Regions from separate parts of the Homo sapiens genome. Here regions 1 and 2 are each linked to region 3. Evidence: fine-mapped expression QTL. A gene starts in region 3. Each other region holds a variant in brackets. All regions are shown on one strand. Distances are from middle to middle. Region 1 overlaps KCNQ2 (potassium voltage-gated channel subfamily Q member 2). Region 2 overlaps LOC124904949 (a long non-coding RNA gene). Region 3 holds the start of KCNQ2 (potassium voltage-gated channel subfamily Q member 2).

Region 1 (4,236 bases), 27 kb before region 3:
CCACCATCACCATCACCATTATCACCACCACCATCACCACCATCACCACCACCATCACCATCACCACCATCACCATCACCACCACCATCACCATCATCACCATCACCACCACCACCACCATCACCACCATTACCATCACCATCACCACCATCACCATCACCACCACCATCACATCACCACCACCATCACCATCATCAGCATCACCATCACCATTATCACCACCACCACCATTATCACCACCATCACCATCACCACCACCACTATCACCACCACCACCATCATCACCACCACCATCACCGGCGCCACCACCATCACATCACCATCACCATCACCACCACCACCACCATCACCACCACCACCATGATCACCACCATCACCATCACCACCATCACATCACCATCGCCACCATCATCACCACCATCACCATCACCATCATCACCACCACCATCACCATCATCACCACCACCACCATCACCATCACCACCATCACCACCACCACCACCATCACCATCATCACCACCATCATCACCACCACCATCACCATCACCACCATCACCATCACCACCATCATCACCATCACCATCACCACCACCATCACCATCACCACCATCACCACCATCATCACCACCACCATCACCATCACCACCACCACGATCACCACCATCACCATCACCACCACCACCACCATGACCATCATGACCATCACCACCACCACCACCATCACTACCACCATCACCACCATCACCCTCACCACCATCACCACCCGCCACCTGCCTCCAGGAGCACTGCAGCCTCGCCAGTCAGCCCACTTTGGGCTCTGTCTCCAGGGATATAGGGGCTGGATGGACCCGTCTCCTGAGGCCAGCAGAGGCTCCACGCCAGGGTCGGTGGCAGGGCTGGCACAGGGGAACCAGGAGGCGCCGCTGGCTTCACCATCTTAGCTACGGCAGCCCATTCCCCTGAGCCTCCTGGCCTGGGCAACAGTGGCTCGCACGGCCAGCCCACCGTGCCCTCCAGGGTCAGTAGCGTCTATTCTGGCGGCCAGCAGGGCTGGAGAATCTTGGGACTGTTGAGACCCTCCCCCAACCTCCCTGAGCCTCCGGGCACAGATGTGAAAAGGGTGCCCACTGCAGTCAGCACTCAACCCCCACAGCGTCCAGGGAGGGAGAGGGGCCACCGGGGGCTGACCCCTGCCCATTCTGCAGACAAAGCCACCACCCTGCCAGGGCTCAAGAGGGAAGAAAATGGGGAGGGGGCCATTTGAGCAAATGAGCCCACCCGTGAGCAAGGTGGAGGGACAGCACAGTCTGGCAGGATGGGGTCTCGGTCACTGGGGGGCCTGGGGCCCCTGGAACTCAGCATGTGTGGCCACAGCCACCCTCTGGGTCCCCCGGACAGCGGCCGCCGCAAGCCGCAGCTTAAACAACCACCAGGCAGGTGACTAGCACTTTGTATTGATCCAGGCACTAAAAACCCAGGAAAGAAGACACCCAACCACAGAGCCAAGGGTTCGCGGCAGGAAGGTGGGGGTGGCAGGGGCCAAAATGGCCTGGCCTGGCCTTTCGAAAAAGCAGCTTTCTGGAGACAGATGACAAAGATGGCCCAAGTCACGAGAAGAAGCACCGAGAAGAAAGGGGAGGGAGGCTCGTTCACACCTGATGGGCTCCAGCCAGAGCCACCACTGACTCCATCCCTCCACCCAGGGCTCTTGAAGCAAACCCCAGGCAGGGGTGGGGCCCGGTCTGGGCCAGGACTCTCGCTGGCTGGGGGCGCCCACCGCCAGCCTTGGGGCCGTGACTCACCTTGCTGTGGGCATAGACCACAGAGCCCAGCAGCTTCCAGGTGCCTCCCCGCCGGTCCATGCGGATCATCCGCAGAATCTGCAGGAAGCGCAGGCTCCGGAGCGCAGATGTGGCAAAGACGTTGCCCTGGGAGCCGGCGGCCAGCACCGCAATGGAGGCGATGAGCACCATGATGTCTACAAAGCGGGCGTGGAGCTGGTGAGCTGCTGGGCCGCTCCCCGCACCCCCTTGGAGAAAACTCCCCACCCCGCGTTCCAGGAGGATGTGCAGAGGGGCGGGAAGGTGTATGCCCAGCGCCTGGTGTGGGCTCTGTCAGGCCCCAGGAAGGACATTACTATCGTCCACCCTGCCTGTGGGGCCCAGGATGGGCAGCCCAGCGCCACATTCCTCTTCCTGACATTTAGGCAGAGTTAACCACAGCCTCTGACTCCAAGTCAGCAGGTGAAAAGAAACTTCCAGAAGGAGCCAGTCCTGCCCAGCCTCTCTGGCCCACGCAGACGCCCCAGCTCCCCCCAGGGCTGAGTCCGTCCCTGGGTGCCTGGCCCTGATTCTAGCAATACCACCCCCACCAGGCCTCACCAATCACACAGAACGGTTTCCGGGCAAACTTGAGCCGCCCCCTCCAGCCACGGTACCGGCAGCAGCAGCCTGCGGCCCAGATCCGCACGAAGTACTCCACGCCAAACACCACGATAGTCACGATTTCCTGCAGGGGAGGAAAGCTGAGGCCACCTTGAGGCCTGGGGGAGGGCCTGGGGGCCCAGCCTGGACACCCACAGGAGCAGTTCTGGCCCAGGGACCAAGCCACAGGGCAGGAGGCCCCCAAAGGAAACTGCAAGCTGAC[C/CCCCCAAAGGG]CCCCCACCCCTCTCCAGCCTCTGGGCAGGAAGGGTTGGGCCCTCTGGAGACCCTGCATCCGGGAACACAGCTGAGCATGAACACCATGGGGCCACCCTCCCCACCTCCCTGTCTGAGCTGGGGACTCTATCTGGGCTAGGGGACCATGTCTGAGCTGGCAGGGCTGCCCTGTCTGAGCTAGGGGGTTCTATCTGGGCTAGGGAACCCTGTCTGAGCTGGGAGGCCCTGTCTGAGCTGGGAGGCCCTGTCTGAGCTGGGGGACCCTGTCTGAGCTGGGGGACCCTGTCTGAGCTGGGAGGCCCTGTCTGAGCTGGGGGACCCTGTCTGAGCTGGGAGGCCCTGTCTGAGCTGGGGGACCCTGTCTGAGCTGGGGGACCCTGTCTGAGCTGGGAGGCCCTGTCTGAGCTGGGGGACCCTGTCTGAGCTGGGGGACCCTGTCTGAGCTGGGAGGCCCTGTCTGAGCTGGGGGACCCTGTCTGAGCTGGGGGACCCTGTCTGAGCTGGGGGACCCTGTCTGAGCTGGTTGGGGAGCTGCCCTGTCCAAGCTGGGGGACTCTATCTGAGTTGGGGGCCCCTGTCTGAGCTGGGGGACCCTGTCTGAGCCAGTGGGGGACCTGCCTTGAGTTGGGGGGTGCACAGCAGGGCTGAGCTGAGGGAAGGCCCCAGGTAACTGCAAAGGGGGCCACAGTCTCCACCCAGACCTTGGGAAGCCCCAGAACAGAGGAGCAGGGCGGGCAGTAGAGGGAGGTGCATTTGGATGGGGACCAGTCTCCTTGAGGGCCCCCCACCCCGTTACCAACAGCAACACAGGAACTGCACTCCCGTTGCCATGGCGCCCACCCTGCCCTGGCACAGGGTTGCTGCAAGCGTCACAGCCCCCACCCCGACGCCCACGTCTGCCGTCTGCTGGGGACGCCCCACATCTCCGGCTCCAGAGATAAAGTGGGGATGGGAAAGGGAGGGTGGCCCACCCAGGGTGGGGGCGATGGAGGCGGGGCTGTCAGCCACTGTGAGGTCACCAGGAGGGGTGAGGTGAGGGCTGAGTTACAGCCAGGGTGGGGCTGGGGCATAGCCCGGGCTGTGGGGCTGGGGGCAGATGGGAACTGACAGGGCACAAAGACATGGCCAGAGCTGGGGCTGGGGGCGTCAGAGGCCCTGTAGTAACAGGAACGGAAGACAGACGCCCAGGCAGCTCCAGCTCCTTCCTGGGCACTTCCAGCCCCCGCCCTCCCTCGGGGCTCACCAGGATGTAGAGGGCCCCCTCCGAGCTCTTCTCATACTCCTTGATGGTGGAAAACACAGACAGCACGAGGCAGGAGAAAACCAGGAGGAACCTGGGGGCAGGGAACGCGCGCTCTCAGACAGGCCGCAGCAGGGCAGCAGCATGGCTGTGTCTCCAGAACTCAGGACCCCACTCCCCACCAGGCCGCAGCAGGGCACCAGCATGGCCGCGTCTCCAGAACGCAGGACCCCACTCCCCACCCACCCCACCAGAGCTCGCTCGGGCCAGAGGGCACCCCCATAGCCACCTCCCGGGACCCTGAACTCCACAGTGGCAGCTGCCCCCTCTATGCGCAGCTGCCCCCTCC
Region 2 (4,787 bases), 830 kb before region 3:
AAGGCTGCCGAGGCGGAGTAGGTGACGGTGGGGTGAGGACTTGAGAAGCAGGGGACACTTTTTCCAGAGGAAGCTGCTCTCCCAGGGGTGCCTCAGTGGAGCAGAGCGAATGGAGCGAACAGACTGAATTCACGGCATTTTAGGACGGGGGACCTGGTGTGGGGGCTTGGATGGAAAGACAGGGAACAGGATAAGCCCTGGGAAGGAAAGGGGGATGTGGCTGCCTCTTCAGGGGCCGGGGTGGGCGTCTGCCCAGGAGGGCAGCGGAGGAGGGGAGGGCAGTGCGGGTAGGGAGGGGAGGTGGCCCCACAGACGCTGGGAGTGCCCAGGTTTTCTGACAACCTCAGCCGCTTGGCTAGAGCGTCTGGAAGGATTTGCGGGGAGCATGTCTGGGGGAATCGAGGCTCTGTGACGGGTGACGGCACAAAGGGGCCCAGCAGGCCTGGCTCCAGCGCCAGCCAGAGGAGTGGCCGGGGGATGAGAGAGCCCAGGAAGGCACCCCAGGGAGGTGCAGCACGCGCCGCCGACTCAGCCCTGGGCCCCGTACGCAGGAGCCACCCCCTTCCTGCAGATGGAACAAACCATCTGGGGTCAGGAAATTGAGCTGGCTCTTCTAATCTCCTCTAGAGCTCCACGTTCCTGGGGTTTAAGTAGAACATCCAGGCCTCTCAGTGAGCCAGAAAAGCCCATTTCTACCTTGTGATGGGGAAGATGAAAATTCTGTGAGTCTCCTACGTGGGAAAGGGTCCGGCTTGCCTGCAGGATGCTGACTGCGTGGCACCTAAACACAGAAAGTTCTGGAAGATTCCTTGCCCCTGTGTAGGCTTAAATATCGTTCACTAGCTCTGACAGTCCACCCAGGCCCTGGGCAACATGTTCCAGGGCAGAGCAGGTTGGCACAAGATGGACATGGTCATGGTGCCTTCCACGGTCACGGGACCCTGGGGACAGCAGACACCGCCCAAGAAGGAATCTCAGGGACCTGTGGGCATCCCTGTTTTTGTGCCTCTGGGTTCTATCACCTGACTTCCCCCAACAATGAGCTCTGCACATGGCCAGGGATCTCTGCACACGTCCAGGGAGCTCTGCACATGGTCAGCCAGCTCTGCACACGGCCAGGAACTCTGCACACCATCAGGGATCTCTGCACACAGCCAGGAACTCTGCACACGGTCAGCGAGCTCTGCACACAGCCAGGGAGCTCTGCACATTGTCAGGGAACTTTGAAAGGGCTGGGCAGGTCACCTTCCTTTCACCCCCAAGTGAGTGAGGCTGCAATGGGGTGTCCATGTCCTTGGACAAAGCTCCAAAGCTTCTAGCTTCTCTGAAGCTCACAGAGGTGTCAGCTTGGTGGGGAAGGTGCCAAGGCAGGGCCCTGGAGATGGGGACAGGGACTGCCCACTTCCATTTGCCAAAGTCTCAGCAAATGAAACATGAGGGAATGAATGCTCAAAGAGGGCTGCAAACAATCGCCAACAAGGTAAATGATTACATTTAACGCTTTTACTGTAAACACTCTCAATGCAATATAATCTTGCTAGTCATGCTGGGTGGGCCGGGATGAGAGTTAGCAGAAGACCTGATGGGTCTGTGCCTCGGCGGGTCCGGACTGCATGCACAGTTGTATTGGAAGCTAAGATAATCACTCACCTAACACGAGGCCCTTCCAGAATGTGAGGTCTCAGCCAAGTGAACCCTGTGAACACCTCCACCCCCAGACCCGCGGGGAGGCTCAGGAGCCAGGCAGACCGAGGCAGTTCCAGAAGCCCTTGGGCTGGCAGACGTTTGCCTCTTTGTAAGTAAGAGTGTATGCAGAAGACCTCACAAGCAGATCACCAGTGAAATTCAGATGACCCTTCTAGAGAGGCTGTGGGCAGCCAAGGCCCCAGGTGTGGACAGGGCTGCTGCTCTCCAGGTGCTGGGGGCCCCAGCATGTCTCTTCCTACAGCTCCATGTGCCTTTGCCACGGAGCCACCGGCATTCAGTGGCCTCTTCCCCACTTGGCTGCTATGTGTCCCCTGGAACTCAGGGCACTCCAGGTGTCCTCAGGTCATGTCTCAGAGCTCAGGGCCATCTCGCCAGGCAGGGAAGTCCAGATTCCAATTTTTTCTACCCCACACCTAATCTCTAACAGCAGGCTCTGAACACACAGGAATCAGTTGGTGGCTTCTAAAGAGAACATGATACCGTCATGTAGCTGCCTGTCCAGACGCTGAAGCCTGTGCTTTCACCGGACCCTAGTGCTTGTGAATGACGACCTCTGTTCTCCTGGGTCAAAACTTCCTTCACCACCGTCAAGAAGGCCACCCTTTGTCGGCGGGTTAAATGCAGTGTTATTTACATATGGTTTATCTGGGCATCTATAATCCCAGGGCGAGAGCCCACCATCCACCAGCATTTTGGAAGAACGCCTGAGACCTGAGACCTGAGACCTGGTGCAATGGAATCAGATTCCCTGGTAGCTGCTTTTAATGGTGACAGATTCTCTGAAACAGAAAAAGATTGAATTGAGTCTGTCTCCCTGGAGTCGTCCTGCTCTGGGAGATGCAGAGGGAGGGC[G/A]GCAGGAGGGAGGACAGTGGGAGGCCTCTGTTGGTCAATTGCTAGGCTGCTGTCACCAGATGGTGGATGGCGTTTGTACAGCACTGGCCAAGGGCCCAGCTCAGCAGGGCCAGAGCCTCAGGTCATGTCGCAGGTGAGCAAAGCAGCGTGGATGGAAGACGAAGATCTTCGTCCCACGGAGGGCTTGCTGTGCGCCCCGCAGGACGCAGATCACCGGGAAGAGCAGGAAGCAGAAGCGCAGGAAAGCCAATGCTGTGACTGAGGCGTGGCCAGCAAGCCAGGCCCTCCAGCCACACCCTGCTCCAAAGGGGCTCCGACAGGATGGACTGATGATTTCCAAGAGAGAACATGCTTTTTATCTTCTATGGAATTTTGCTACCAAAGAGCCTCCCAGCTACCTGTGCCCTTCCCTAACCTGACAATCTTAATTCCCCCATGAAACTCCTCCATCGCGGACATTTGGACAACTCCAGGCTGAGTTTTTCCTAAGGCCACTCTGGCCTTGTGCGTCTCTTCTTTGCTAAGCTGTGTGCCAGCCGCCAGCCCACATCTGGGTTGTACCATGATCCTAACTCCTCACCTGAACACAGCATTTAACAGACTGAAACGTGCCACTCTGGAGCTGGGGACTTCAAGCCACATTTCGCCTGCAGCCCGATCGCCTTCAATCTTTAGCAAAATCCTCTTTCTCATGCAAAACAGTGCAGTCGTAACTTTTAAAATATTTTTTAGAAACTTTCTCTAGAGCCTCCACCACATGGCCACAGCCTGAGACTTTGAAATAATGAAACAATTAAATGATGTTTTCATCATTTCTGAGACTTGCCCATTATCACGAAGCTGAAATGGCCATTTTTTTATAAGTCAAGGAAGGACAGGCAGTTTCAAATGAGTTGGCTAAGACATACGCCAAATTCATAGAAAATAGAAATGAACTATGACTACAGAATGGAAGCAACCACAGAAATATTAGCAGGATTTTAAGTATTATCCCAATCAAGTACTAATAGCTAAGTGAGGTCATTTTTTGGATACCATTCCTGGTCAAAGCTAGGAATGATGTGTGTTCCAGGCTGGACCCTCCAGGCAGAGGCACCGGGATCCCACGCTGTTTCTGGGTTGGCCATTAACCTGCCCCTTGACCTGACAGCGTTTCTCTCTCTTCTCTCTCTACACTTCTCTTCTGATCTTTAGATCGATTTTCCTCCAAGTGACAATGTCCATAAAGAGAGAGGGAGGTGGAAATACAGGCTGTCACATTTCAGCTCTTTGAGGTGCCTCTAAAGATGATGTCAGAGAACAGTAAGTGGCCCACAAATGTGCAGCATCTGTTCCGAGCCTCCTGAAGCCGCCCGGACAGGCAGCAGTACGACCCTGCAAGGCCACAGGGGAGCCAGGGGGTTCTCGCTTTCTTTTTCTTTTAATTATTTCCTCTCAAAAAAGAAAAAAAAAAAAGAAAAGAAAGAAAAAAAGCCCTGCTGGGATAGAACTTATTGAGTTCAGAATGTTCCAGGGCACATAATCAGGCTGCCCTTGTTCCAAGACACTGCTGTGCTCTGTAGCTGACCCCCGAGTCCTCTAGGGCAAGAGTAAGGACACAGTCGGCTCCCGAAAGCTGGTGCAGATGGACCCCACCACGCAGGGCCTGGAGTTGGGCCAGACCTGCAGACCCCCTTGATGGCCTGCGGCAGGACCCTTCACCTGGGTCAAGGCCTCCTGGTGCTCCTAGGGGCCTCTTGAGGAGCCTGGGCACCAGCATTTGCCTTTGAGGACAGGACTGAGGGCCTGCATTTTGCACGAATGTACCTGAAATGTTTGCTCTGGATTTACCTTTCCAATGGTGCCTATGCAGGAATCCCAAAGAATGCCTGGTGGGGTCTGAGGCGGGTCTCAGGCCGGGAGCCCTCCACAGGCAGCAATATTTGGCTAGAATTTAATGCCATTTTGTTTCTTTTTATCTATTTTTATGGTGACCTCTTTGTGGTAATTGACACTGACTTTTTAAAAAATAAACTTACCCTTTTAATCAAATGTGTGAATTGTTTAAAGGAAAAACATTGTGTAAATAATGTTTTCAGGGGGTAGAATCCAGACGTGAGTTTTGGAAACAGAGTCCAGTCCTGCTTCTGACATTTGAATTGCTTCTCCAGCATCATCACCAGAAGATGGGCTACCTGTGCTCACAAGCCTCCTGTAACACGGAGCTCACCACCTCTCAAAGGCACCTT
Region 3 (4,787 bases):
GCCACGGGGACAGCAGCAAACACCACACCAGGGGTCTGGGAGCCGGGCGGTGAGCTGCACCAGCAGTGCTGAGCCACATCCCCTTTCACAGAGGGCACTGGGCCGGCCTGGAAGAGTGTGATGCCCCCCAGCAGTGGTGTTCACAAAGCCCTGGGTTGAGAAGCAGCTGTGCCGACGTTACCGACGGAAAACTGAGGTTTGCAGAGGTTCTGAGACCAGCCCCCAGTGTCCAACCCGAGGCAGGACCAGAAACCCTGCTCTCCAGCCCCGCCGCTTAGAAAAAATCCCCCTCCCAAAGGGGCCGCCTCCCTGAGTCCAAGCCACCCCTGCCCACAGCAAAGGAGCTGAGGAGAGCCTGGGAGCTCAGGGAGGTTCAGGGAGCTCCGTGCCCACAGCAAAGGAGCTGAGGAGAGGCCTAGTGCAGGCTGGAAGGCGGGGCTGTTCAGACGTTGAGGGTCTCGCCTGAAGCCCCCGCATGCTGCTGCTCTATCTTAGAGGGGGCCCGTCCGGACTGGGGGTGGTCAGGAAGAGACGGCTCAGACCCCACATGTGCAAGTGTCCCCATGCTTTGCCCCAGTTCTGGACTGCTGCTCTCAGGAGGCAGAGACAGGAAGGAGAGACAGAGGGGCTGACCCACGCAGGCCCAGGCAGGGGGCGGCCATGCGGAGAGCTGCTGACCCAACGGGAAACCTCAGGAACAGCCACGCTGGGCCCTTGGATCATGGACTCAAAGCAGAACCAACCCTGGGTCAGACGCAGAGCGGGGCGCTGGCCAGGCTGTCAGGGCAGGAGGGTTGTGGGGGTGGGTTCTATCCTACCCTCCTCCGGGGAGTCACCTTGGGCAGGGACCTGGCTGACCAGTACCGGCCCACCAAGAGCCCCTTTGGCCCCCAGCCAGGTGGGGGCCATCAGGGGAGGCCATTCCTGAGAACACAGAAGCTCATCTGGGGATTCGGGAATGAACCCTGGACTGGAAAAGCTAGACTCACCTCCTGGGGGCCACAGGGCTTCCAGGACCCAGGAGGTCGGAGAAGCTTCTGCTTGGGGAGTCCCAGGCTGGGTGCCCAGGGGCCCTCCACGGAGACACCCTCCCTGTAAGCGGCCTGGCATTTCCCTCTGGGATCTTCTCCCTACCCCAGAACCCTCTCATATCACAGTCCACGGAGGGTCTGCTAAGGGCACACTCAAGGCCACACGCAGGCTGGGGCACACTCGTGGGGCACACACCCCTCTCGGCCCAGGTGGGCGCCCGACCAGCTTGTGACCAGTCTGCCCCTCACTCCCATCCCAAAATGCCTCTCACACAAAATGGCCGGTCCCGGAGCTCAGCGGGTCCCTTGTTCAGCTGGGATGGGAGAGCAAGCGCCCTGGCGCGGGGAGGCTGTGCACACCGGCCGCACAGGCCGCACACGCAGCGGGCCGTGCAATTCCACATGCGAACACCCAGGTGCACACGGACGCAGGCTTCGGCCGCCCCCCGCCAGCCCTGCCCCAGGAGGCAGCCGTTCCCTGAGCCTCGCCCGGGAAGAGGGGACAGCCCCTTCCAGGCCCAGGGCTGGGGGTCCCAGGTCTGCCGCAGCCCCTCCCCCGGGCCTCGCTCTGCCAAGGAGGGGTCCTGAGCCCGGGATGTGCACGGGGGCGGCCGGCGGCTGCAGAGATGGGACAGCGCAGGAGCTGAGCGCAGGAGCTGAGGGGGTTCGCGGGGCCAGGGAGGGGCGTCGGCGCCGAGGGGGCAGGACAGACAGCTGCGCTCAGCCCGGGCTGGGGTGGGGGGGTCATGGGAGGGCCCCTCCCCCATCTCAGGAACCCAGAAGCTCACCCTAGTCTGAGGGAGAGCGGCTCGGGAGGATGGCGGAGGACAGGCCAGACCCCTCCCCCCCGCCCTCGCTTGGTCGGGCGGCCCCAGCCCCGCGGGTCCCCGAGAGTCCCGGAGAGTCCAGACCCAGCGCTGCCGCCGTCCCTCCCCGGCCGGCCCTTTGTTCGGCGCAGAGGCCGCGGGGAGGGGCCTCCCAGGCTGAGGAGGGGGCTGGGGCGGCCGCACGTCTCTGTCCTGCGGGCCTGGAGCCCCCACCCCGACCTGAGCGGCCCCGACCCCGGAATCCTTCCTGCCCGCGCGCTGTACAATCGCTCTCCGGTCTCGGCCCAGCACTCCCGCCGGGGAGCGCCGGCCCCGGACCCAGACCCAGGGGCAGGGAGCCAAACCCGCCGCAGCCAGCCTGGCCGGGGTCGCCGATGGGGTCGCCGATGGGGGTCGCCATGGGGGTCGCCACGGGGGCCCCGCCGGCCACTCACACGTAGGCGTGGTAGATGAACGCCCAGCCGCGCGGCCGCTCCAGCACGTTGTAGAGGAAATTCTGCAGCTTGCGGTAGAAGGCGTTGCGCTTGGGGGGCTTCCCGGCGCCCGCGCCGCCCGCGCGAGGTTTGCTGAGGATGCTGCCGCGCTTGGGGGCCTCGGAGCCGGCGATCAGCAGCGCCCCGTCCCGGGTGGAGTCGGGCGCGCCGGGGTCCAGCCCCACGAAGCCCACCTTCAGCTTCTTCTCCCCGCTCGGGCCGGGGTATACGCCGCCGTTGCGCGACTTCTGCACCATGGTGCCTGGCGGGAGGCGCCCCGGGTCGGGCTCAGGCTCAGCGGGGGCGGAGCGCGGGGGGCGGCGCGGGCCCCAGCCCAGGCCCCCCGGCCGGGAGCCGCATGGCCGAGGCGGCGGTTCCGCACTCCTGCCGGGCTTGGGCCGCGCGCGGAGACGCTGCGGCCACCTCGCTCCGCGCGCACCTCGGCGCCTGGCCCGCGGCCGCGCCGGCTCCGCCCGCCGCCTCGCCCCGCCCCGCGTTAACCCCCGCGACGCCAGTCGAAGGAGAGGGGAGGAGAAGAGAGGGAGGGGAAGGGAGGGGAGAGGGAGGGACGGGGAGGGGAGGGGAGGGGGGAAGGAGAGGAGAGGGGAGGAGAGAAGAGGGAAAGGGAGGGGAGGGGAGGGAGAGGGGACGGGGAGAGGGGAGACAGGAGGGGAGGGGGAGGGGAGGAGAGGGGAATGGGAGGGGAGGAGAGTGGCGGGGACGGGGAGAGGGGAGACAGGAGTGGAGGGGGGAGACAGGAGTGGAGGGGGAGGGGAGGGGGGAGAGGAGGGGGAGTGGGGGAGGGGGAGGGGAGGGCAGGGGGAGAGGAGGGGGAGGCAGAAGGGACCAAGGCCCGCGGGACCAGAGCTCTGGGCTGAGCCTGCCCAATCCCCCGGCCATGTGCACACTGACCCTGCGGTCACCTTTGAGTCCGGTAGTACTAACCAAGTGGACCTGCCTGGTGGCCCCAGCGCTCCTGGGGTCCCAGAGCGGTGCCCAGCCGCCTGAGCAGGACTGGAGTCTTCTCAGCTGGGCCCTGGGAGTGGACGCCTCCGGGAAGGGATGGGGGTAGGGGCTCTCCCCAAGACTCTGTTAGGGCTCAGCCCATGGTGACCTCATGCTCTCGGTGTCAGGGTTGCCCAGGCAGTAGGACCCCCTAGACCCCAGGGTGTGTGCAGGGAGGGTCTGTGGAGGCTGGAGGCACCCTGCAAGGAAAGCAGCCCAGGGGAAAGGGGGTGGCCACAGAGGCCGGGAGGCAAGAAGAGGAGCAAGGGCCATGGGGTGGGGGATGGGAGAGAGTCACTCCTAGAGGGCCTTGAAGCCCCCCAAGGGGCCTGGACTTAGTTATGCAGACCCCAGAAGGGGCCTGTGGCAGGGGCAGGGACTGGAGGGTGGCCCCAGGGCAGCAGACAGGCCAGCAGGAAGCCCAGTGCCACACCTCGGGACAAAGGAGGCAGATCTGTGCCTCCTGGACACAGATGGGACGGTGTTTCCTTGGGGGCAAGTGCGCGGAGGTGGCCTCCCCCCTGCCGGCAGCCATGTGTCCTGGGAGGGGTCCCTCTGGAGCTGCTGCTGGGAGACCAAGGGACCCCTGCGGCTCAGTGCTGCCCGCCCTGTGAGGTGCCCCGCCACTGGGCCTTCCTCTGCACATCCAGGAGGGGTGTCATCTTCGAGTGCGTCTCTGACTACATCCAGCCTGTTTGCACGTTCGCCTGGCACCATGGGTTCTACCCAGAGAAAGGCCCTCTGCTGAATCGCTGGCGCCGTCCTCGCAGGTGACCTGCTCATAAAACAGCCCTAACCCTGGTGCAGAGTGAGCTCTTGAGTTGTGTTTGCCCTTTGGTTTCCAGAGCTAGTGGCCACGGGGCCTGTTTTTGTTGTTGTTGTTTTGTTTTTAACTAGGCTGAATACAGAAGGGTCGGTGCAGGCAGAATGCTAACCTGTACGTTATCCAGGACGTTGGGGATAGACGGCAACTTACACAAGCTTGTGCACATCCAGGGGTACTTTCTGGATCCCCGCCTCCCTGCCTCTGTGCCCACGCATTGGCTGTGATTACCAGCATGAAGTGGGCTTGCCCCAAGCGGCTGCGGTTTCTCTCGATTGTTAAGGGAGGAGGCACCAGCCTGGTGCTTTCAGGGGAGGGAGAGGACTTCAGTATGCAGAAGGAAGAGAGCACCGTGGCATCTCCCTGCACACGCTGGCTGGTGCCGCTGGTCTTTCCCACTCACCAGAAGACCCGAGGGAGCAGCCGTAGCTCAAAATGTAAACCCTGCAGGGCTGGGGCCCCTCATCCTGTGGGGGGAAGCCCCAGACTATCCGGTGCCCCTCGGCAGTGCCCGGGCTACACGTGACCTCTCCTGGGCAAGCAGTCATCTCAGGTTTGATGTCAGAGCCCAGTGGGACCCAAGGTCAGGGCTGATCCACAGAGGATGAAGGAAAAGTGACCCCAGTTC

Evidence for each region.
Region 1: its variant is fine-mapped to the expression of KCNQ2 in left ventricle (GTEx, PIP above 0.99).
Region 2: its variant is fine-mapped to the expression of KCNQ2 in left ventricle (GTEx, PIP 0.96).

What each region holds. Positions count from the first base shown.
Region 1 is chr20:63,442,857-63,447,092 of GRCh38, forward strand. It overlaps KCNQ2 (potassium voltage-gated channel subfamily Q member 2), which reads right to left. Exons shown (of 17, transcript NM_172107.4): 2 at 3,891-3,981; 3 at 2,382-2,508; 4 at 1,803-1,978. Among named protein-coding and RNA genes, the nearest start is that of KCNQ2-AS1, 3.5 kb to the right of the region's middle. The variant C/CCCCCAAAGGG (reference allele first, on the strand shown) is at 2,647.
Region 2 is chr20:62,636,157-62,640,943 of GRCh38, forward strand. LOC124904949 (a long non-coding RNA gene) reads right to left here. Exons shown (of 2, transcript XR_007067711.1): 2 at 1,489-4,787. Among named protein-coding and RNA genes, the nearest start is that of SLCO4A1, 4.0 kb to the right of the region's middle. RefSeq lists an enhancer at 1-340. The variant G/A (reference allele first, on the strand shown) is at 2,560.
Region 3 is chr20:63,469,876-63,474,662 of GRCh38, forward strand. KCNQ2 (potassium voltage-gated channel subfamily Q member 2) reads right to left here and starts at 2,780. Exons shown (of 17, transcript NM_172107.4): 1 at 2,293-2,780. The coding sequence starts at 2,588. RefSeq lists an enhancer at 1-609.